Linked DNA regions of Homo sapiens. The protein of the gene in region 1 interacts with the protein of each later gene in a pairwise test. Each region holds a gene or a part of one and is shown in the gene's direction. Other genes may lie near its edges. The genes, in order: DCDC2, DYNC2LI1, LMO3, SLC38A2, HORMAD1, KRTAP9-3 and MYG1.

The links.
Region 2: the proteins of DCDC2 (region 1) and DYNC2LI1 interact in binary tests that used the Homo sapiens proteins (3 or more experiments, as listed by UniProt).
Region 3: the proteins of DCDC2 (region 1) and LMO3 interact in binary tests that used the Homo sapiens proteins (3 or more experiments, as listed by UniProt).
Region 4: the proteins of DCDC2 (region 1) and SLC38A2 interact in binary tests that used the Homo sapiens proteins (3 or more experiments, as listed by UniProt).
Region 5: the proteins of DCDC2 (region 1) and HORMAD1 interact in binary tests that used the Homo sapiens proteins (3 or more experiments, as listed by UniProt).
Region 6: the proteins of DCDC2 (region 1) and KRTAP9-3 interact in binary tests that used the Homo sapiens proteins (3 or more experiments, as listed by UniProt).
Region 7: the proteins of DCDC2 (region 1) and MYG1 interact in binary tests that used the Homo sapiens proteins (3 or more experiments, as listed by UniProt).

What each region holds. Positions count from the first base shown.
Region 1 is NC_000006.12:24,351,560-24,355,059, reverse strand, and holds part of DCDC2 (doublecortin domain-containing protein 2), read left to right. Parts: intron 1-1,436; coding exon 1,437-1,491; intron 1,492-3,500. UniProt on the Homo sapiens protein: Protein that plays a role in the inhibition of canonical Wnt signaling pathway. May be involved in neuronal migration during development of the cerebral neocortex. Involved in the control of ciliogenesis and ciliary length.
Region 2 is NC_000002.12:43,780,539-43,784,038, forward strand, and holds part of DYNC2LI1 (cytoplasmic dynein 2 light intermediate chain 1), read left to right. Parts: intron 1-2,981; coding exon 2,982-3,016; intron 3,017-3,500. UniProt on the Homo sapiens protein: Acts as one of several non-catalytic accessory components of the cytoplasmic dynein 2 complex (dynein-2 complex), a motor protein complex that drives the movement of cargos along microtubules within cilia and flagella in concert with the intraflagellar transport (IFT) system, facilitating the assembly of these organelles.
Region 3 is NC_000012.12:16,599,663-16,603,162, reverse strand, and holds part of LMO3 (LIM domain only protein 3), read left to right. Parts: intron 1-2,294; coding exon of another isoform or gene 2,295-2,302; coding exon 2,303-2,508; intron 2,509-3,500.
Region 4 is NC_000012.12:46,366,274-46,369,773, reverse strand, and holds part of SLC38A2 (sodium-coupled neutral amino acid symporter 2), read left to right. Parts: intron 1-2,433; coding exon 2,434-2,507; intron 2,508-2,605; coding exon 2,606-2,698; intron 2,699-2,828; coding exon 2,829-2,910; intron 2,911-3,500. UniProt on the Homo sapiens protein: Symporter that cotransports neutral amino acids and sodium ions from the extracellular to the intracellular side of the cell membrane.
Region 5 is NC_000001.11:150,700,728-150,703,895, reverse strand, and holds part of HORMAD1 (HORMA domain-containing protein 1), read left to right. Parts: intron 1-502; coding exon 503-586; intron 587-3,168. UniProt on the Homo sapiens protein: Plays a key role in meiotic progression.
Region 6 is NC_000017.11:41,231,007-41,233,954, forward strand, and holds KRTAP9-3 (keratin-associated protein 9-3), read left to right. Parts: upstream 1-1,442; 5' UTR 1,443-1,495; coding exon 1,496-1,975; 3' UTR 1,976-2,448; downstream 2,449-2,948. UniProt on the Homo sapiens protein: In the hair cortex, hair keratin intermediate filaments are embedded in an interfilamentous matrix, consisting of hair keratin-associated proteins (KRTAP), which are essential for the formation of a rigid and resistant hair shaft through their extensive disulfide bond cross-linking with abundant cysteine residues of hair keratins.
Region 7 is NC_000012.12:53,302,695-53,305,185, forward strand, and holds part of MYG1 (MYG1 exonuclease precursor), read left to right. Parts: intron 1-339; coding exon 340-499; intron 500-2,491. UniProt on the Homo sapiens protein: 3'-5' RNA exonuclease which cleaves in situ on specific transcripts in both nucleus and mitochondrion. Involved in regulating spatially segregated organellar RNA processing, acts as a coordinator of nucleo-mitochondrial crosstalk.

The sequences.
Region 1 (3,500 bases):
ATTTGAAACTTAGCACTTATAAGTTTATGTAAAGAATGGAGAAACTGTCAGAACAAAAGAAAGCCCAAACGATATTGAGGACAATTCGTGGGCTTTCATTTAGACCCTAAATGTTGGGAAAGACAGCAACATCTTTTTCAAATGGAACTGATCAAATCGCTGCTTGAATTGCTTTCACTTAGATTTTTCTAATATTTTTGAAACGATAACTAAACATCAGGTAGCTATTAAACCCTTATTTATTTCAAATGTGAGACCATACATTCACAACCTTTATTTTACAGCAGAGGATTCTAGAGAGTATTTCCCCCAAAACTTTCCCTGTGCATTGTTGGAAGTTGACTCTGCAGCATTAATCTTGTGGATCTGAAACCACTTTCCTGCACATGACAGAATATTTTGGTATTATTTCAAAACTCAGCCCCTGCAGGTCCACAAAAGACCCATTTTATTGCTAAGACGGAGTGTTTGCACTGTTTTAAAAATATGACTACTTTTATATAGGGGCATTGTATGACAATTTCCAGAGATATGAATTAACTAAAGTATTTTATCCAAAAAGGCAAACAGCAACAATAAAAACATTTCAATAGCCAAAATTAATTCTAACATAAGCTTTTTTTGGGACAAGTTGGCAATTGTAGTAGTTGGGGTAAAGGATTGATCTATCATTATAAATTATATGTTAGATTTATACTTTTTAATATTAAAATGTTTATTTAGCACATTTTATGTATGAAGCACAGTTTAGGGACCATTTAAAACTGGAACCACATCACAGTGATATTACACGTGAAGTTGACAAAGGTATACAGTTTTCAGGTTGTGCTTATGTAACAGCTAAAGAATGATCACTGTTAGTATCTAGAGCAAATAGTAATGGAATAATAGGGGTCTCCAGAGGTTAACTAGTCCACCCATCTGTTTCTTAGCTGAACCAATTACCAAAGTCATCCCACATGAGTGAGTGTTTTTGTATCATTAAGGTGCTCTCATAGAGACAATAATTTCTCAGCCTTTCCCAGTTGTTACCCTAATGCACGCTATCAGTACTTCCTTTGACCTAAAGCCTGTATTTAATGGAACAGTTAAGCAGCTTTGCACATAAGCCACTCTTTTAAAAAATCAAATCTGTAAGAATATAGTGTATATAGTAAGCAGCTAACTATTAAGAGGGAAAAATGTTCTCTAATAGATGTATGTATTTCTAAGACTTTCCTTCTCTTGAAGTTTAGGGTAGACATATGTCAGCTCTGGTTGGTGACACTGCAAACAGTTTTTACTATTGTAATTGCTTTTCATTAGTAGCTATTTGTTTTTGCTTTAAGGTTGAGAATTTCCTATGAGTTGCTTTATTTTTTTATGATTTTTAAAAATAAATTACTGACTTAAAGTCTATAAAAGCAACTCTTATTGTTTGTTTGTTTTTTCCTCAGTTACTTGGACATAGGAGAAATCAAGAAAAGACCAATGGAAGTTGTTAATACAGAGGTAATGCAAATATTATTTTGAAAATTCAAATAAATAACGGTGCCATTTGTTTCTTATGGTGTGTCTTAGAGATTTGGACGGCATTCTACTTTGATGAGTTCTCTAATGTAAAGAAATGGAACATTATATGTTTTAAGGCAAAGATAATTCTTTCTTTGAATCATTGTCAGAAATGAAAAGACTGAGTAGATGTTCTAAGATGTGCAGGATATGTCAAGATTAGACAAAACATATTTTTCTCTTTTCTAGCTACATGTTCTCTGATTGAAATCCATGGGAAGGTTCCCTGTCAAGTGAGAAGATTCTGAGCGTTGTTAAATAAATCTTTACCAAAGCTACATCCTCATCCTAATGTGCCTCTGATAACTCAGTGTTTGATGTAGCCAGGGTCACCCTAACTGCCCCTGAGGCTTTCAAAGGAGATGAGTAGATGTCACGTTGGACACTTTGTGATGTCAGGAAAACACCTGTGTTTTAGCTTCTATCGAAGTACGAGTTAAGCATAGTTCGTGAAAGCTTATGTGAAGGTTGGAAAAGGAGCTTGTGAAATATTCACAATACCGCATTCCACGTAGCTTCTGAAACCCTGGTGGAGTTTTAGGTATTCTGTAGGATGTATTCTTTAGTTTGTGAATGAAAAAATAGATTAAAAACAAAGTTGGGGCCACAGCCTGAGACAGGGAAAATTGTAGTTAGATCCAGAATAGGCCTCTGTTCACCAGCCCAGACAGCCACTCTTCCCATTCAGACCCCAAATAAACAAGTGCTTCCAATGGGTAAGTGCTGCCAATGAAGAAATGGCCAACAGGAAAAGTAGTTTTTCTCACTTGTAGTCCAGAGCCCCAGAGGGACTCTCCTCAACACTCACCATTTCCTCTCACATCATGTTTGTGCCTAATAGGACCAAATAGGCCCCTCTAGAAAAAATATTGCGTAAGAAAAAAATTCTAATTGTACAGTATTTGAAGAATATGAGGTTAAATTCATTATTCAAATAATCTGTAGAAAGAGGTACCCTTCCTAGACATCATTTAACATAATTAATATTTTGGCTTGTATTTTCAGTGCATCAAATTGATTAGTCATGAAAGTGATAGGCTTTGTAGCTTAAAGTAGACAAAGGTATACAATTTTCAGGTTGTGCTTATGATATAGCTAAAGAATGACCACCAGTTGATATCTGTCTCAAGTAGAGTAGTAATAAAGGGCAGTGTTGTGAATTTGTTCTGGATGTGATTCTGATGAAAGGATACACACCTGTTTAAAGTATACTACCTTGCATGAAATTGGTGAAGAAACCTGGACTTCCGCAATAGAATTTGAGATGTGTGAATTCCCAAAAAATGTGAGCACAGTATATTTACTCTGGATTCCAGTGTCTTTGCTGAAGACATTATCCCTAGTAAAAGACAACAGGTGTGCAATAGATTTATCGAATATACTTTTTTCTTAAAAATTTTTTTTTGAGACAGAGTCTCCTTCTGTCACCCAGGCTGGAGTGCGGTGGCTCGATCTCTGCTCACTGCAACCTCCACCTCCTGGGTTCAAGCGATTCTCCTGCCTCAGCCTCCTGAGTAGCTGGGATTACAGGCACGTGCCACCACACCTGGCTAATTTTTTTGTTTTTCGTAGAGACGGGGTTTCAGCATGTTGGTCAGGCTGGTCTTGAACTCCTGACCTCATGATCCGCCCGCCTTGGCCTCCCAAAGTGCTGGGATTACTGGCATGAGCCACCAAGCCCGGCCTTAAAATAGTATTTTTAATAACAGAAGCATTCACAGAAACTCCAGTTCATTTAATTTGCTTATTGTTCTTCCACTCTGGGGACAGTAACCATTGTTTCTCTTTATTTTGCACTTACACATGAGCCAACGTACAAGATCCTTATTTATGGATGCACACCTTACGTGTGAAAAACCTACCCCTTGTCTCCAAATGAAAGACTGCATCTCTTTCATCCTGCTTCCTACTGGTGACTCCCTCCCACTTACTCCTTTCCTCTTGCTGCC
Region 2 (3,500 bases), on another chromosome or scaffold:
AGTGAGAATAAATAGCTTCGTTTAACAAGGCTGCAGAGGAAGGGGTTCAGGGTAAGTCATATTTTAGTTAAGGCCAACATGTGGAGAGAATATTCTGAAAAGGCTGAGATATTGGGGAGTTTGCCAGTCATGGAGCTGAAGTCATAGAGTGGAAGGATTTTAGAGGAAGGGAAGACAGAAGGGGATTATTGGGCCAGATTAAGGGATGTTTACAGAGTTAGGAAATTCAGAGTTCCAGGGATAATGGGTCAGAGGAGAGGGCTGGACATCTGGGGCGATTGAGGCAATGGGAGGGAAGATGGGATTCATTTTGATGGTCTCTAAATGAACTTGTACTAGGTCAATGTTTCTTGAATTAGGAAACCCACAAGACTACAGCCACATGCTCAGGGGACCAGAGTGTACTAATGAATTTTTAAATTTTGGATTGTAATTTTAATGATAATCTAAAACTTGATTTCAGTTCCCAGATTAGTTTATGTTAATTTGGAATTGTTACCATATAGTGCTATACATTTATATGAAATAATAATAAAAGTGATTTAAGGCCAGGCGTGGTGGCTCAAGACTGTAATCCCAGCACTTTGGAAGGCTGAGGTGGGAAGATCACTTGAGGCCAGGAGTTCAAGACCAGCCTGACCAACATAGTGAAACCCCATCTCAACTAAAAAATACAAAAAGTTACCTGCACGTGGTGGTGCATACTGGTAATCCCAGCTACTCCGGAGGCTGAGGCCTAAGAATCACTTGAACCCAGAGGCAGAGGTTTCATGAGCCAAGATGGTGCCACTGCACTCCAGCCTATGCAACAGAGGGAGACTCTGTCTCAAAAAAAAAAACAAAAAAGGCGAGGGGGAGTGATTTAAATCAATGAATACTAGTGTACCATGAAAATTTGAGGAAATTGGCTAGATATTATTTAAAATTCCTTCCAATTCTTATTCTACTTTCTTGCAGAGTACATTACTTTTTGGGTAATGTAGCCCTTATTAATTTAGAACTTTTACAGCATACTACATATGATACAAGTTCATTGTAGGAAAATTAGAAAATCCTGATTTTCTTTTTCTTTTTTTTTTTTTGAGACAGAGTCTCGCTCTGTCGCCTAGGTTCGAGTGCAGTGGTGTGATCTCGGCTCACTGCAGCCTCTGCCTCCTGGGTTCACACCATTCTCCTGCCTCAGCCTCCCAAGTTGCTGGGACTGCAGGTGCCCACGACCACGCCTGGTAATTTTTTTGTATTTTTAGTAGAGTTGGGGTTTCGCCATGTTAGCCAGGATGGTCTTGATATCCTGACCTCGTGATCCACCCGCCTCGGCCTCCCAAAGTGCTGGGATTACAGGCGTGAGCCACCATGCCTGGCAGAAAATCCTGATTTTCTTAAAAACTTTAATTACCTTCAAATCCTTCAGCTAGAAATAATCATTATTAACATAGTGATGTCCCCCTACATTTGTGTGTTTGTTTCTGTCTATGTGTGTGTGTGTGTGTGTGTGTGTACTTCAAGGAAGCAGGAAAAGTATTTTTTAATTGAAAACAGAGACATGCTGATCTATTATGAATGTTTTACTATGTCAGTAAGTATATTTCTACATTGTCATTCATAATAGCTGTATATTATTCTATTATATGGTTTACCATAATTAATTTAGCCAGTAGGGGACATGTAGGTTGTTTTTAGTTTTTCAGTTTGATGTAACACTGGCCAATAAACATCCTTCAATAATATACATTTTTATATTGTACAATTCCAGTTATTTTTTAATATATCTCATTACAAAAAATTTACTCAATTTGATCGTATTCCAGATATAATCTGGAGTAATTATCTTTTTTGTCAAAAACTATAGGTTTTTTTAGTAAAAACAAAAACACATATAATAAGTGTTCTGTGTTTTTGGCAATCCAGAGTTTTCCAAATTATTTTCTTTAGAGCCTGAAGGTTTCCTCCAGTGGAGCTTGTCCTGCTGTTTCTCTTTTATCTGTTTCCTTGCAAGGGGTCTTTTCTTTAAAAAAAAAAAAAAAAAAAGGATTTTACTATTTTTTAAAAATGATATAAACCACTGAGCTAATCCCTGGCTAAGCTGTGAAGTTAAGTTGCCTGACTAGTGGTAGGAATTAGGCCAGAACTTGTATTTCCTTACTCCTAAAAAGAAACTTGGGGTTGGGCATGGTGGCTCACACCTGTAATCCCAGCACTTTGAGAGGCTGAGGTGGGCAGATTAGATGAGGCCAGGAGTTCAAGACCAGCCTAGCCAACATGGCAAAACCTTGTTTCTACTAAAAATACAAAAATTACCCAGGCATGGTGGTGTGCACCTGTAATCCCAGCTACTTGAGAGGGTGAGGCACGAGAATCACTTGAGCCCAGGAGGCAGAGGTTGCAGTGAGCCAAGATCATGCCACTGCACTCCAGCCTTGGCAACAGAGTGAGACTCTGTCTCAAAAATAAAATAAAATAAAATAAAAATAAACAGAAACTTGGAATAAGTACATCCTCTGGACTTAAAACAAATTACTCTAATGCAGTATCTGAATTGCTTACTTTGAACATATTTACAATGTGTCCTTTATTTGTATGTTACCTTTTTCTTTATTTCCACTTCAACAATTGGAATTAAAACATTTTAAAAGACACTAAGCATCGGCTTAACCAGTAATTAACATTGATGAGTAGAGAAAAAATTTAAGACAGCTGCCAAGTTGACCACTTAAGTGAGGTATGATTTGCTAGTATTTGTCATCTGTGGGACTTTATAATTATAATAATAGCAGTGTAGTTACACTGTGATGGAAAGTTGACAGTTAACTTTTTCCACTTATCAAACTTTAGAACAATTCCGAAAGTTTCTAGTTTTTAGTTTCCAGGTAATTTATCATTCAATTGATTAAAAATCTATTTTGGGCCACAATTACGAACAATAATACAATTTTTACATATGAGTGACATTAACGCAGTGTTCCTTCTTTTTTAATTTCCAGGGAAAGACTACTATTATTCTAAGGTGTCTTGACAGGTAAGTGTTATGTTAACCTTTAAACTATATTTATGCTTATTCTAGTTGTATAGGGCAAGTTAGCTCTAAAAGACATAAGGAAGGGGAACGATTTTGAGACCCAAACAAAATATTTAATTCTTAGCAAATCCTTAGTATAACCTTTAAGAGCGCCTTTAAATATAAAACTAACAATAAGCCAAAAATTATATGAGACTAATACTGGATTTCCCTATTTGAGGGAGAAATGTTACCATAATTACCCAACCTACAATAGTATTTACCTTCTTTTTGGCTATGCTACTCTGATATTTAAATTATTTTTGTTCTACCTAATCTACAATTATTTGAACATTCATTGTAAGCTTTAGTTGCTCAGGGGTACATTTTTGAAGCACAGTGTTGGTCCTCAAACTGGATATTTTATCATTTATTTTATATATTTCCTAACGTATACTGTAGAAGCAGGCCATCAGATTAAGATTTAGCAGTATGATTGGTAGAT
Region 3 (3,500 bases), on another chromosome or scaffold:
CAAAAACATTTTGTGAAGACAAGTAGGGTAGTGTTACTTGTGCCAAATGTTGGTATCCCCTGTCTTGGTTGCAAAGCATTTTGAATAAAACAGCTGACCTTCTATGCTTGATGGTAGAAACACAACTGTGGGAAATATAACTTAGCTGCTACTGGGATTTTTTTTTTTTTCGATTTTTCATCTTTGAGCTTTGTGATAAATAAAAATAATAGCCTTACAAATTTAATAGAATGGCCGTTAATTAGGATGGCTTAATTAGAATGGCTTCTCTTAATATTTATTATCTAGGTGTTTTCAGTAACACCATCCAGAATTTCACTGAGTAAATCAAAACTTCCCCTTCCCCCTAGATATGTGGTTAACAGGCACTTGGATCTGTTGTTCACTGTAATTAATGGGATTCACTCCTTGTGGAACCTTGCTAGAAGAGGATAACTAGTTCTGATCAAAGAAACTTCATTTGTTAGAAGTTCTAGAGAGTGAGATTTAGCAGAGCTATCAAGGGTTATGATTAATCTACACTAGGCCCTTAGCTCCTTCAAAGGAAAGGAACAGAAAGCAGGCTATAGGGATACCACCTGCTCTTCTTACAAATCCAGCTGTTAGTCTGCAGCTCCGGTGACTACAGCTATGCTTATGATGCAGAAAGAAAGAACAGCTACTCTGCTTTATTTCCTGCCATTCCCTACACAACTCTACCAGACGAGTTATTTTCTAATGAAAGTTCAACATCCTAACAATATTTTGTGCAACTCATGTATTATTTGTAGTTAGAAAAGTTATTCCGCTCTGCGGATGCCTTGATGTCTCTTACCAGTGGGATTTTTTTTTTAAAAGGTTGTGAAAGTTGTGATGGGGGTGAAGCCTTCATCATAAGATATCAGAGGAAACTGGAGGAGGTTTAGCTGTTTTGGAGAAGGAAAATGTACAAAAGTGCAGATTATAGCTTGACATTTCTTATCCTATAATGCATGCACATTTGGTGTTTTGTATCCTTCTACATGCAAGTTTAAAACTTTATGCCTAGGAGAGCAAACATAATGCAGCAGAAGGGTCTCTGGACTGTAAGAAGGCCATTTGGCTGGAGTCTATAGCGTAACTGTCTTTCAGCTTTGAGCAAGTCTCTGAACCTCTCTTGGGCCTCGGTAACATAATTTGTAAAATGAGGGAATTTGGAATTGATGATGTCTGCAGTACTTTATAGTGCTTAAAATGAGTTATTTGATAAATATGAGGCATTGGATAGTTGGTCCAGCTTCTTGCTAAAGCTGGGTGTTTTAATACCTAGGAAATAAGAAGACACTCAAGGTGAATGTCCATTCATTCAAAAGATTTCAATCAAACTGTAAAGCCCATGGAATCCAGCTGGATTCCTTATTTATGATGGATTTATACCTTTAAAATATATAAATGTTTCTATGTTTAGCATAGTATACATATAACATGTATATATTTACTTATATATGTTTGTATAATTGTATATATATTTAGATCTTGCCTTCTATTGTTTTTTCTTTCCTTTATAAAACAAATAATTGCATGTTTATGGTAATAAATGGTATAATCATATACTTTAGGTTTACATAAAAGCATATAGTATATAGTTAAGTAATCTGCCATTAATATAGGTGCTGACTGATGCTTGTGAGTATAAATGTTATATTTGAACACAATGAATACTTTGAAATATCAAGGACATAGAAGAAGTATTTGGATGCAAGCAAGAAATATAGGATTGGTGAGCTTTTTGGGTAGCTGTTCTGTGTACTTAACTATAAACACCTCTACTGCTGAATAAGGTTAGTGTAACCCCATACCAGGTGCCCTCTCCTTCCACCATCAAGCACATATTAAGTGAAATTTTTAAACAGTTAAGCAAAACTCATTTTTTTACTTGTAGGGACTGTGCATAGATTAATTTGTTAAATAGCTTTCTTTTCAGATTGTTATTTACTCACATTTTCTTTCTAAAGGAACTGCTCTATGGGGAGAATGAAGATACTATAAAATTATTTAATGTTATTGAACTTCATATTTATAATGTCAATTTACCATGGTCAACATGAATTTATTATTATTGTCACTTGGCATGTGTAACTTTTTGAATGATTTAATAAGCACTTGATAAAGTTTGAGACTTTTTGTTTCCAAAATTGGGTTTGATTTCAGTATAGCCCTAAACAAGAAAAGCTAACACTCCTAGAATAAGGAAATATTAAATATTTAACTTGTTTGAGGTCTTTTTATTCTGTCTGGTAGTCTCAGCTCTCTTTTTTGCTTTTGTCTTCCTTTAGGTATACAAATGCTCTCAGTCCAGCCAGACACCAAGCCGAAAGGTTGTGCTGGCTGCAACCGAAAGATCAAGGACCGGTATCTTCTAAAGGCACTGGACAAATACTGGCATGAAGACTGCCTGAAGTGTGCCTGCTGTGACTGTCGCTTGGGAGAGGTGGGCTCCACCCTGTACACTAAAGCTAATCTTATCCTTTGTCGCAGAGACTATCTGAGGTAGGAATTATCCTTGCACACCAGTGATGACTGGATGCCTTTTAAAGTACTTTTGTAAGTGTATTTTTTGTTTGCTTGTTTCATTTCCTTACTGCCAGCTTATATTCCTGAAAGAAGTTACCTGTCAGCCTTCAAAGCGTTGCCCTGTGTGTGTTACTCAAATTAATGCTTAAGGAATAGCCAACAAACCACAATATTTAAAGTATTTCAATTTGGCTTGCCTGCACACTCAGGCAGTTGGTTATGGCGCTGCCTATGTTGAAACTGCCAGTTAATGTCAAGGATGTATTTGGTCGAAATCAGCATTCAGGTTGATTTACTTATTTTTTCTTTTTTTTCTTTTTTTTTTTTTTTTTTTTTTTTGGAGCTTAAGGGGGAATGGGGGTTGAGCATAACACAAAGAAATTGATCAGCCATTTGGCAAAATATCTTAACTATTTTTAAAAAGTTCAACTTGAAAAAAATGGACTGTGTAAAAGAGTTTAATTGTTGCCTCTAAGTTGGACCTGAATTTAGTCTTCTAAAGTTATTCAGCTGTCTTCTCTGTTTCAGGTGTGTCAGAGGAAGTCAGGTGCAAATCCTTGGTTAATATCTATTAGTGCATTTATTGTAGAGTTTTGAAAACTTTCCCCAAGTGTAGATACATCTTCCTCTCGCCCCACCTCATGACATTCTAAACGGGAATCTCAAAAATACAACTAAGCAATTGAACCGCCTCAGACTTGCCAGTAGTTTTATGGATAATAACAAAGTAAAGACCTCCATCATTATAGGAAAATGACAGCCACTCTCCAACCTGTAAACATCTGAATGCTTTCAGGACAAGGCAGGTGTTCTTGGTTATGGAGCTATGAAGCCTACTAAAGCTTGTTTTCCAGCATTAAGTACTCAACACAGAATTTCTGCTGAAGGAAAATTATTTTGCTTTTCAGGCAACTTTGTGACTTACTTCAGCTGCAAATTACTTATATTAATAAAGTAGGATCTATCAA
Region 4 (3,500 bases), on another chromosome or scaffold:
TTAGCCATTTTTGCGTCACTGACTCTTGGAGAATATGATAGAAAAATGTGGATCTTATTTCCAGGGAAAAAGCACAAAACAAAAATACATGCAATCTTAAGCATGTATTTTTCAGTGATGTTTGTGTCATAGCCCTTAAGTTTAAGTACCCGTGGACCCCTGGCTAAGGCAATTTCTGTGGAGGATTGTGTAACTTAATACCTTCATTGTACAGATAAGGAAACCATATGTATATAGCATGGAATTGTCCCTTTGTGACAGATGTGTTTTACTTAGCTGATTGGTGCCTTCTACTCAAGTTATTTTCTCCAGCACGATAGAATGTTCATGAAAAGAAAAGCAGACCTTTGCAAATCTCTGCTTTGTGAAATTCCACACTGAGGTTAAGCCTGGCTTTGAGTACTAGATGCTAGGATTCACTCTGGCTTGCTTCAATTAGGATGAGGCTTTTTGAGAGAACTCTTACTAAGGTGAAGGACCAGCGATTTACGTAGAATCCTAGAATCTCAGGAGTTCTTAGTGGAGAACCTGAATGGCATCACTGTCGAATATTTGAAATCCTTGTTAGCACTTGGTATAAAAACTGGAGGCAGTTTTAGAGTGCAGCCAGTGTAGTTAAAGTAAGAATTGAAATGATACTAAATGGCACCTCTGTTTCATAAGTGAAGGTCAAATTCTGATGTAACCCTTGTACTCTTGGAATTATACTTTAATAGGTGCTTATGTCATTGATTTACCATTTTGCTTAATGGCTAAATAAGATTGCTAAAGTGTGATTTTATTCATCAGTACTTACTTTATATTTAGAGGTATAGAGGAAAATGGGCCAAAAACCACATGGCTGCCACGGTGCACTTCAGCAACCCTGTAGCTAACCTGTTTAAGTAGAATCAATCTGAAGGTTGAAAGTGACCTCAAAGGTTATAAAGTCTATTCATCCCTTGTCATTTCAGTATAAGACATGGAAGGACTTAATTTGGTTTGTTTTTAATTAAACCAACATATTTTCTCCAGTTAGAAGTGAGGTTGATAGTGTCACTTCAGACTAGGTCCTGTAAAACTTCTGGCATTTAGAATGGTAGTGTAAAGCCACTTCCTCTGTTTAACTAATAGACATCAGTTTCTTTGTCAGCACCTTACATGGTACTGCGTGCAGTTTGTTCATACGGAATTAAAAAACATGTAACTCTTCTCCTTTGCAAGGTTTTCTATGAGTTTCCCTGTTTTGTTATTTAATTTCTTTAAAAAATTAGTCTGTATCTCTGGGCTCTCCTAGGTGGAAGGAAAGTAAAGCTGGAATGAGGGAGAACCCTTACCCTAAAGGAAAATTAGGTGACATTAGGGTCCCTTTAGTCACTCTATGTTACCTTATTTATTTATTTTTTTTCTGTTGCTCAATCCAAGTGAAAGGGTCAAGGGAGGAAAGGCTTAGAGACAGTCAAGCTGATAGCCTACTTGTTCTAGCACAGACATTGTTTAACTGTGACAATAGTGGGCCTGTATTCCTTGCCATGGGGTGCAATGTAGTATGTCATCACAATGGTTAGTTCTCTGATTTGTGCCCAGTTGTTAGTAAAGCTTGTAGTGCCTCTTAAAATGTTAGTATCATGTTAGTGTCATTTCCCCCTTACCATTCTTTTCCTTTTCTTTCTTTTTTTTTTAAAAAGACAGTATTTCATTTTGTCCTCCAGGCTGAGTGCAGTGGCAAACTGCTGGGCTCAAGTGATACCCCCACCTCAGCCTGAGTAGCTGAGACTATAGGTGTACACCACCACAGCTGGCTTTTTGTTTTTCCTTCGGTAGAGATGTGGCTTCCCTATGTTATGTTGTCCAAGCTGATCTCGAACTCCTGGCCTCAAGCAGTCATCCTGCCCCAGCCTCCTAGAGTGCTGGGATTACAGGCATGAGCCACTGCACCTGGCCTGTCATTCCTGTTTTTGTGTATACGGTCCATGTGGTCTTAAAACCTTTCCTGAACGTGTCTCAGTTGAATTTCCCAAGAACCTTGTGGGCTGGGTTTAGTGGCGGATATTACTAATATTTTACAGATAAGGGGAACTACTGAAATGCAGAAAGGTGGCAAGCATACAGCTCATTATTGTGGTGCCAGAATCAAAATACAAGTTTCAAACTCCATCACTGGGAAGTTGAGCTTTCCAGTGTCTCATGCTATGTTTGGCTCAGTGGGTAGACATCCTTGTTCCTAACCAATGCTGTAGAACTATCACCTGAGAAATGATGCAAGTTTTTACTGCCAGCCAAGAGACAGTGTTGCCATTCCAGTTAGTAGGAGAGGAAATGCCAGTTCTTCAGGGCATTTTGACACAAATAGGACAAGTTGCACACATAATGTTATTTAAACATCCAGAAAGAGTTGTCTTTAAATATAGCCATGCTTATTTATAACCCTATGCCTTTTCCTTCTCTCACCAGAATTCTCTTGACATTTGTGTCAATATTTTCCCTGTATTCTGTTCATCTCCTTTTGAAGACTGCCAATGAAGGAGGTATGATAGCATTCTTGATTTTTCTAAAACAATGTATACCTATCATTTTATTTCTCTTTTAAAATCCTTGGCTTCATGCTTCTGTCTTCAAATTGTAGGGTCTTTATTATATGAACAATTGGGATATAAGGCATTTGGATTAGTTGGAAAGCTTGCAGCATCTGGATCAATTACAATGCAGAACATTGGAGGTAAGAATTTTTCAAAAGATTATTTGGGTAGACTTTATGCTCATTGTGGAGCACAGAATGGTGACACATGCGTTTTAGTGTCACGTGCCGCGTTTTGCACTTGTAATGGTATAATTTTGTTTTCCTCCAGCTATGTCAAGCTACCTCTTCATAGTGAAATATGAGTTGCCTTTGGTGATCCAGGCATTAACGAACATTGAAGATAAAACTGGGTAGGTGCTAAGTAAGGTTACTCATAAGAAACAATTATAGTCAAAAGTGGTTAGATACATTTTTATCAAAGTTGTATACAAAATGATTAGTTAATTATCCATAAATGTTCCTTTTGAAACTGACCAAGAAGGCCCCCCATCCCCGTAAACTGATTCGAACTTTGGAGAAGGAAAGGCCGAAAGATAGTAGCTAGCCCTACAATTTTGGATATCTTAATTTCTAAAACAGGTTTTCTAGAACTTGCTTTCTGTCTTTATGTTCATACTTAAAGAAGTTATAGGTGTTTTTAATATATATCCTAAGTGAGGACTGAAGCTTTGAATTACATTAAAAATTAATCCGTCTTATTTTTGTAAGTTTGGAATTCTTAAGACTTAATCTGTTCAATGCAAAATACAGGCTGGACATCCCTAATCTGAAATCCAAAACTTTTTGAGTGCCAACATGACACTACAAGTGGAAAATCCACACCTGATCTCGTGACAGGTGTGCAAAATTAATTAAAATACTGTATAAAATCACCTTTAGGCTATGGGTTTAAGAAGGTGTATAGGAAACATAAGTGAATTTTGTGTTTAGACTTCAGTGC
Region 5 (3,168 bases), on another chromosome or scaffold:
TCTGAGAATTTCAGAGCTAGATAGAATCTTATGCAGTTATTTATTCCACCCTGCTTTGTATTTATAAGTGGAATATATAATACATTTGTGTTGCCTTGGAGCATACATGTTTTATTCTGCTTTTCAAATACAGTAAAATCCTGAAATAAGAGATTTAGGTAATATGAACTTGGAAAAAATATGATTGATGATTGATTGTCTGTCTTCCTCTGCCCAGCCCATTTCTCAAATAAGTAGACTAAATTTCTTGTCTTCTGGAAGGGTGGTGCCTGGTGATCATTTGGTACTTTCTCAGTTCAGTGGTTGGCCAATTATGTAAAGTGTCAGTTTCACTATCTTTACTTTTGTGCTTTTTGAACAGTATGAACCAACTCAAAATTATTGGTTTTAACTTGACAAGACCCTAAATTTTATGTGGTTAAATTTTTGGACCCCATTTATTGTGTTATGAAAAGGTTTTATTATACTAAGTTATATTTTTTGTAATTATTTTCTTTTTTAGGTTGAGCAGTTAGTCAATAAAACATCTGAACTTGATATGTCTGAAAGCAAAACAAGAAGTGGAAAAGTCTTTCAGAATAAAATGGTAAATATCTCTTTAGGTTTGTTTTCCATTGTAACCTTGTAATTCTCCCCCATATGTGAGTTTATTTTAATATTTCGTTTATTAAACCAGTATTTACTAAGTACCTATTATGTGTCAGGTACTTTACTAGGTGCTTAGGATATAACCTGAATAACACATACTTCATGGTCTTAGCTGAAGTTTAGTAACTGGAAATAAACAAGCAATGATACAGAGCCATTATAGAAGTCTGAATAGGCTACATAGGCACAAAGAAAGGAATGGTTAATTTTACTGAAGGTATATTAAAGAGAGGGATCCGGGAAAGGTTTTGGGAAGAAGTGATACTATCATCCAGACTCCCAGAGAAATTTCCTAGAATGCCAGAATGTTCCCATGCTTGATCTTTTTTTCTTTTTAAATTTCATTTAATTTAAGTTCCAAGATACATGTGCAGGACGTGCAGGTTTGTTACATAGGTAAACGTGTGCCATAGTGATTTGCTGCACCTATCAATCTATTACCTAGGTATTAAGCCCCACATGCATTAGCTATTTATCCTAATGCTCTCCCTCCCTCCAACCCCCTGACAGGCCCCAGTGTGTATTGTTCCCCTCTTTGTGTCCATGTGTTCTCATTGTTTATCTACCACTTATAAGTGAGAACATGTGGTGTTTGGTTTTCTGTTCCTGTGTTAGTTTGCTGAGGATAATGGCTTCCAGCTCCATCCATGTCCCTGCAAAGGACATGATTTCATTTCTTTTTATGGCTGCTTATTTTCTTTATCCAGTCTATCACTGATGGGCATGTGGGTTGATTCTGTCTTTGCTATTGTGAATAGTGGTGCAGTGAACATACAGGTGCATGTATCTTTGTAATAGAATGATTTATATTCCTCTGGGTATATACCTAGTAATGGGATTACTGGGACAAATGGTATTTCTGGTTCTAGATCTTTGAAGAATCACCACACTGTCTTCCACAATGGTTGAACTAATTTACATTCCAACCAACAGTGTAAAAGTGTTCCTATTTCTCCATAGCCTCGTCAGCATCTGTTGTTTCTTAACTTTTAATAATCACCATTCTGACTGGCATGAGATGGTATCTCATTGTGGTTTTGATTTGCATTTCTCTAATGATCAGTGATGTTGAGTGTTTTTCATATGTTTGTTGGCCACATGAATGTCTTCTTTTGAGAAGTGTCTGTTCATGTCCTTTACCCACTTTTTAATGGGGTTGTTTATTTTTTCTTGTAAATTTGTTTAAGTTTCTTATAGATTCTGGATATTAGACCTTTGTCAGATGGATAGATTGCAGAAATTTTCTCCCATTCTGTAGGTTCTCTGTTCACTCTGAAAAATATGGAATGCTTCATGAATTTGCATGTCATCCTTGTGCAAGGGACATGCTAATCTTCTCTATATCGTTCTAATTTTAGCATATGTGCTGCTGAAGTGAGCACCATGCTCAGTCTTATAAATTGAGTATCTTGTTAATAAGACATTACAAAATAATCTTTTGTATATATCTTGTATAAAATGAATCTCATATTCTTAAGGGAAAAAAATCACTGCTTTATTTTAGCTTTTGGTATGAATTATACTAAATCAAAATTCATATTTGATTTTAGACCTTTAAGTTACTCTCAAAGGTTCATTGGGGTGAAGAAAAAGCATTCTGTAAAATATATAAAATATCTAAAGTTTAGGAAATAAATAGCTCACTCTGTTAGTGGTGTGCTAGAACATTTATTCCCAACTCCCCACTCAGAGATATCATGTTGGTAGCTTAAATTGGACATGTTGGTAGTATTCACAGCACAGAAATCAGCAAATGCCTCAAGGTTTGTTTCTCTCCTAGAGCTGGTTATTAAACATTTATTGGAACACTACTCATTATAGTGCCATTTTTAAGTGTCTTCCCCCACCCCTATTCTCAATGGGAAGTTAGAACTGGCAGAAGGCAGCATTCAAATGAGTATCTCATGAAAGCAAGAGATAAAGGAATGTCAAGATTTACTACTTCTAGAAGCAAAATGTTCATCCTAGCCAGTTTATATGTAGGATGAATAACCTTTACTAGGATATAGGGATAGAGACCAGCATTTTAAAAATTATTAAGCAAGATCTCCTTGTAATGTAACATTAAGATGATTTAGGGACATAAATTTATTTCTGAAATTGCACATGTTTTTGGATATGAACTCTGAGCAAGTGTACTCCTGATTTTGAGAATTATTACTGAATTGTGGTTAGAAAAGGGCAAGAAATGAAAATATTCATTATTATATATACTAAGGAAGTTATCATTGGAAAGCTCATTTCAAGCATCAGAAAAGAAGTATATCCTTTTAGAGAATAGTTGTATGACACCTAATCATTAGTCATTTTCCAATATTCATTTTAATAACTATATATACAGCATTATTCACAATAGCCGAAAGATGGGAAAAACCTAAATATACATCAACAGATGAATGGATTAAAAAATGTGGTATATTCATACAATTGAATATCAGCCATAAAAAAAATGAAGTGCCAATACATGCTACAACTTAGATGAACCTTGAAAACATGCTAATTAAAGGAAGTTACTCACAA
Region 6 (2,948 bases), on another chromosome or scaffold:
ATTTCTGAACTGTGAAAAGATAAATTTAAGCCACTTGGTTTACAGTAATTTATTATGGCAGTGCTGGTAAGTTAATACACTTACTAAGTATCCTGAGCTATAGATATATTCTGCTACACTATATGGCTTAAAGATAATTACCCCTCACCAAATAGTAACTCCTTTCTCTGTCTGCTGCTCTGCTGACGGGAAGAGTCCAAAATGACTAGGCGATAACGATTCCTTTTGATTATAACAAAGAAACAGAGAAGCAAATACTATAATTTTTATTCACATGGAAATTTTAAAAAGCCAAAGTCATCTACTGGATTATAACTTGATAGAGTGATTAGCTGTTTGGAAATGAGTAAGCGGATATAATTGGGAGAGAATGGCATTAATTTCTATTTCCTAACCTGGTAATGGGGACATAGATGTATTTACAATGTAATACTATATCAGGTTGGAAATTAATAATTTGCATTCTTCTCAAGTGAATGATATACCTAGACAATGTTTTCAACATGTTAGAACTCCACGATGAATCAGGTGTCATCTCAACTCATCTAATCCCTTCATTGAAAAGAAATAGAAGAAATTACTTCTACTTACTTCTTCTTCTAGTTACTGCTAGTAACTAGGTTTAGGGCTAGAGCCACAGCACATGCTGGTTGGCCTGAATTTCAACGCTTACTTCTAGTTACTGCTAGTAACTAGGTTTAGGGCTAGAGCCAGAGCACATGCTGGTTGGCCTGAATCTCAAGAAGTTACGTGATAGAAAGTCCTCCATTCTCATCCCGGAAATCCCCACACTCCCAGACAAGTCAGAATGAATGGTCGTCCTAGGGCATACATTGCTTGATGCTGTCTAAATCTCAGCAGATTTCTCTGCATCCACCTGTTCTCGATCTGCTCTGTCGCATGGAACACACTGTGCAGTCACCGTCTTCCCAAGTGACATTCAAAGAACTGAAAGACACAGATGATGTGGGTGGCACAAAGAGATGCCTGTTAGTCTTGAGTCAGAATTTGGTGGGTGAATAGTCTTGGGCCCAGGCATGGATTCATTTTGTCACTGTAAATATATCAGCATCATGCTTCTCCCCACAGACACTTCCAAGTCTATATACAGCCAAACATGAGGCTGGCCAGAGAGAACTTCCTGAGCCCCCCGGATCAACAGGAACTGTCACATGACCAGATGATGGTCAGAGCAGGAATGATGCTGATGATGAGACGGGCTTCCTTTTATCTGAAACAAACTTTCTATGAGTAACTCACAATTAAGAAACAGATTAAACCCTTAGTTTAAAAGGTTCATAAGATTTCAGTAACAACTTCCCCTTTGACAATCCCAAATGGACTGTGGAAAACAATGTAAACAGCAACAAGGAAAAGTCCTGCTGATTGGTGGAAACTTTGGAGGCCAGGTGTATAAAAGGTCCAGATTGCAAGGGGTCATCAGATTTTGGGAAACTCACCTCTTAACAGAAGCCCACCCTCCATCCCTGACACCATGACCCACTGTTGCTCCCCTTGCTGTCAGCCTACCTGCTGCAGGACCACCTGCTGGCAGCCCACCACTGTGACCACCTGCAGCAGCACACCCTGCTGTCAGCCCTCCTGCTGTGTTTCCAGCTGCTGCCAGCCTTGCTGCCACCCAACTTGCTGTCAAAACACCTGCTGTAGGACCACCTGCTGCCAGCCCATCTGTGTGACCAGCTGCTGCCAGCCTTCCTGCTGTAGCACACCCTGCTGCCAGCCCACATGCTGTGGGTCCAGCTGTGGTCAGAGCAGCTCCTGTGCACCTGTGTACTGCAGAAGAACCTGCTACCACCCCACAAGTGTTTGTCTGCCTGGTTGCCTAAACCAGAGCTGTGGCTCCAACTGCTGCCAGCCCTGCTGCCGCCCAGCCTGCTGTGAGACCACCTGCTGCAGGACCACTTGTTTCCAGCCCACCTGTGTGTACAGCTGCTGCCAGCCTTCTTGCTGCTAATCAACTCCCAAGAGAACTACCATCCTCACACAACAACCTTCAGCTCAACTGACTTGTCTTTTGAGGGACTAATTTACTTTGCTGCTGACAGCCACCATGCTCTCACCCAAATTTTTATGAATTCTCTACATGTTTAAAATCTTGGGAATCTGCTTGAGGGAGGGCAGAATACTTCATCCTCATTCCCTCTTTCCTTACACCTTGTGGATCATGTGCCAGCTTCGTCTGTTCTTAATTTGGAGTCATGATCTCAGCTTTGTCTCAAAAATCAAGAGCTTCATTCTTTGCTTCTAAGGAATTTAGGTTTCTGCAACTGATCAATCATCTTTGCAATTATATTTTCATTTTAAATATCCTTCTCATGGTTCTTGTATCCTTCTTTCTTCTTTTCACGATAACTTTGGGTTATGTCTCTGGTAGCAGAGATTCTTACCTATATGTTTCTGAATAAACTCTGAACCATCTTCATCTCATATAGTGTTTTGTTTTATTTGAAAGCATTCCTGATATGGGATTTACACACATATCACATACCATAGGTATTATCCAATTTGATTCTCAAAACAGATGGTCGTGTATTATTAACTCCATTTTTTCAGCTGAGAACAATTTAATGTGTGATGTTATGTAGCTAGTAAAGGGCAGACTCTGGTCAAAGGTGAGGTCCTCTCTTTCTGCCCAAGGACACTTACGTTTAACTCCCAATATAGTAGAAAAGACACTGGAAGTCAGCACTAGCAAGACATGTACTTGAGTTTATTTAACAATGAGAGGAATAATCTGACATATTTGCAGATAACACTTTTGTTCACACACAAAAAAATCCCAAAGTAGTTCCCCACACCTCAGTGAGCAAAGGCTGCATGATATGCATTTAATGGCTGCCCTGAATGCAGAGATCTTTTTGTCTGAGCCTCTGACCAGCCATTCATTCAATTCATCTGCATCAAAAAATGCTTGAGAATTTATTGTG
Region 7 (2,491 bases), on another chromosome or scaffold:
TCTCTGCTTGGAATGCTTTTTCTCTTTCACCCCTTGTCTATCTGGTGGACACCCACTAATTCATCTTTCAGAACTGACCTGAAGGCTCTCCTCTGAACCCTTTCCTCATCCCTTCCTTCCTTTCCCTTGTCTCGTCTAGTGAGAGTACTCAGGGGGTTGTGTTTGTCGGCCTCCGGCAGATGAATCTGAAAGCAAGGACAGTGTCTTGGTTTTTTATCCTTAATGTCTAATAAAACATAAAATGTGGCAGATAGGAAGCATTGAGTTAACCATTGAATGAATGCATGGAGACTCTAGCCAAGGTCCCTCACCTCAGCCCCACCTCCCTATGCTCCTCAGGTCTTTCACAGAGACCATGAGCTCCCTGTCCCCTGGGAAGCCGTGGCAGACCAAGCTGAGCAGTGCGGGACTCATCTATCTGCACTTCGGGCACAAGCTGCTGGCCCAGTTGCTGGGCACTAGTGAAGAGGACAGCATGGTGGGCACCCTCTATGACAAGGTGGGGACCTGAGGACAGAGATGCCCCCCACATGCATTTCCAGCAGGCCGCCTGGGAGCAGTGCTCACACAGCACTCAGCACTGGGCCTCGGGTCAGGGTTCCTGGCCTATAGCAGGCCCAACACTCATCCTCTCCCTCAGTCAGGCTCATCTCACAAGGGAATGGTGATACCTCCCCTGTCTACATCCTGGGGTGGTTGTGAGAAGTGGATGCTGTAATATATGGGGAAGGGCTTTGAAAACCATAAAGCAGCATGGCCCCGTCTTTTTATTGACACACACAAACAGCAATTGCTCAGCACCTTTGGGTAAACAGAGGGGAGGCTGCTTATGTGTGGAAGCAGATGGCTCAGAGGTTCTGGCTGCCCTGAAGGTTGAGGGGAGTGTATGTTAGGCACCACTGTAGTTCACTAGTGGCACATAAATTGGGAAGCTCAGCTGAGAAGAGTTTTATTATGAAACTGTCTTTGGATTCCACCAGTGTCCCCTGCAAGCAGCTTCCTGCTCTTAGGGAAAGAATATGGCTAGTGGCCCTGGCATGCAAGTCAGGTCGCACAGTACTGAGGACACTTACTTGTTTACAAGTCAAAGCCCAGGTTCAGTCAGCTGTATTTCTTGCAGGTAGGCTGTTGAATTCAGTTCTCAGTTTTTTTGTTGTTTTTTGTTTTGAGATGGAGTCTTGCTCTGTCGCCCAGGCTGGAGTGCAGTGGCGCAATCTTGGCTCACTGCAAGCTCCGCCTCCCGGGTTCACGCCATTCTCCTGCCTCAGCCTCCCGAGTAGCTGGGACTACAGGCGCCCATCACCATGCCCGGCTAATTTTTTGTATTTTTAGTAGAGGTGGGGTTTCACCGTGTTAGCCAGGATGGTCTTGATCTCCTGACCTCGTGATCTGCCCACCTCAGCCTCCCAAAGTGCTGGGATTACAGGTCTGAGCCACTGCACCCGGCCCATCAGTTCTCAGTTTTAGCTTGCCCATTTTCTGCCCTCTGTAACTATAGAGTTTTTGGAATATCAAGATTTTAGACTGCCTGGGTCAGTTTTCCCTTCCACTGCTGAAGGGTTTCTAAACAACTGACTAAATTTTTGTTGTTGTTTTTTTTTGTTTTTTTGAGACGGGGTCTTGCTCTGTCATCCAGGCTGGAGTGCAGTGGCACAATCTCAGCTCACTGCTACCTCCGCCTCCTGGGTTCAAGCGATTCTCCTGCCTCAGCCTCCCAAGTAGGTGAGATTACAGGCGCCTGCCACCACGCCTGGCTAATTTTTTATTTTTAGTAGAAACGGGGTTTCACCGTGTTAGCCAGGCTGGTCTCAAACTCCTGACCTCAAGTAACGCACCCACCTTGGCCTCCCAAAGTGCTGGGATTACAGGCGTGAGCCACTAATCCCAGCAACAATTGACTAAATTTAACCCGTATTTTTTTTTGAGAGACTGTTGCCCAGGTTGGAGTCCAGTGGTGCCATCATGGCTTGCTGCTGCTTTGAACTCCTGGGCTCAAGCAGTCTTCCCACCTCAGCCCCCCAAGTAGCTGAGACTACAGGTGCATGCCACCATGCCTGGCTAATTATATATCTTAATTTTTTTGTAGAGAGGGTCTTGCTATGCTGCCCAGGCTGGACTCAAAAACTCCTGGGCTCAAGTGATCCTCCCACCTCAGCCTAAACCCATGTTTTTTTTTTTTTTTTTTTTTTTTTGAGACGGAGTCTCGCTCTGTCGCCCAGGCTGGAGTGCAGTGGCGGGATCTCGGCTCACTGCAAGCTGCGCCTCCCAGGTTCACGCCATTGTCCTGCCTCAGCCTCCCAAGTAGCTGGGACTACAGGCGCCCGCCACTACGCCCGGCTAATTTTTTGTATTTTTAGTAGAGACGGGGTTTCACCGTTTTAGCCGGGATGGTCTCGATCTCCTGACCTCGTGATCCGCCCGCCTCGGCCTCCCAAAGTGCTGGGATTACAGGCGTGAGCCACCGCGCCCGGCCTAAACCCATGTTTTAACT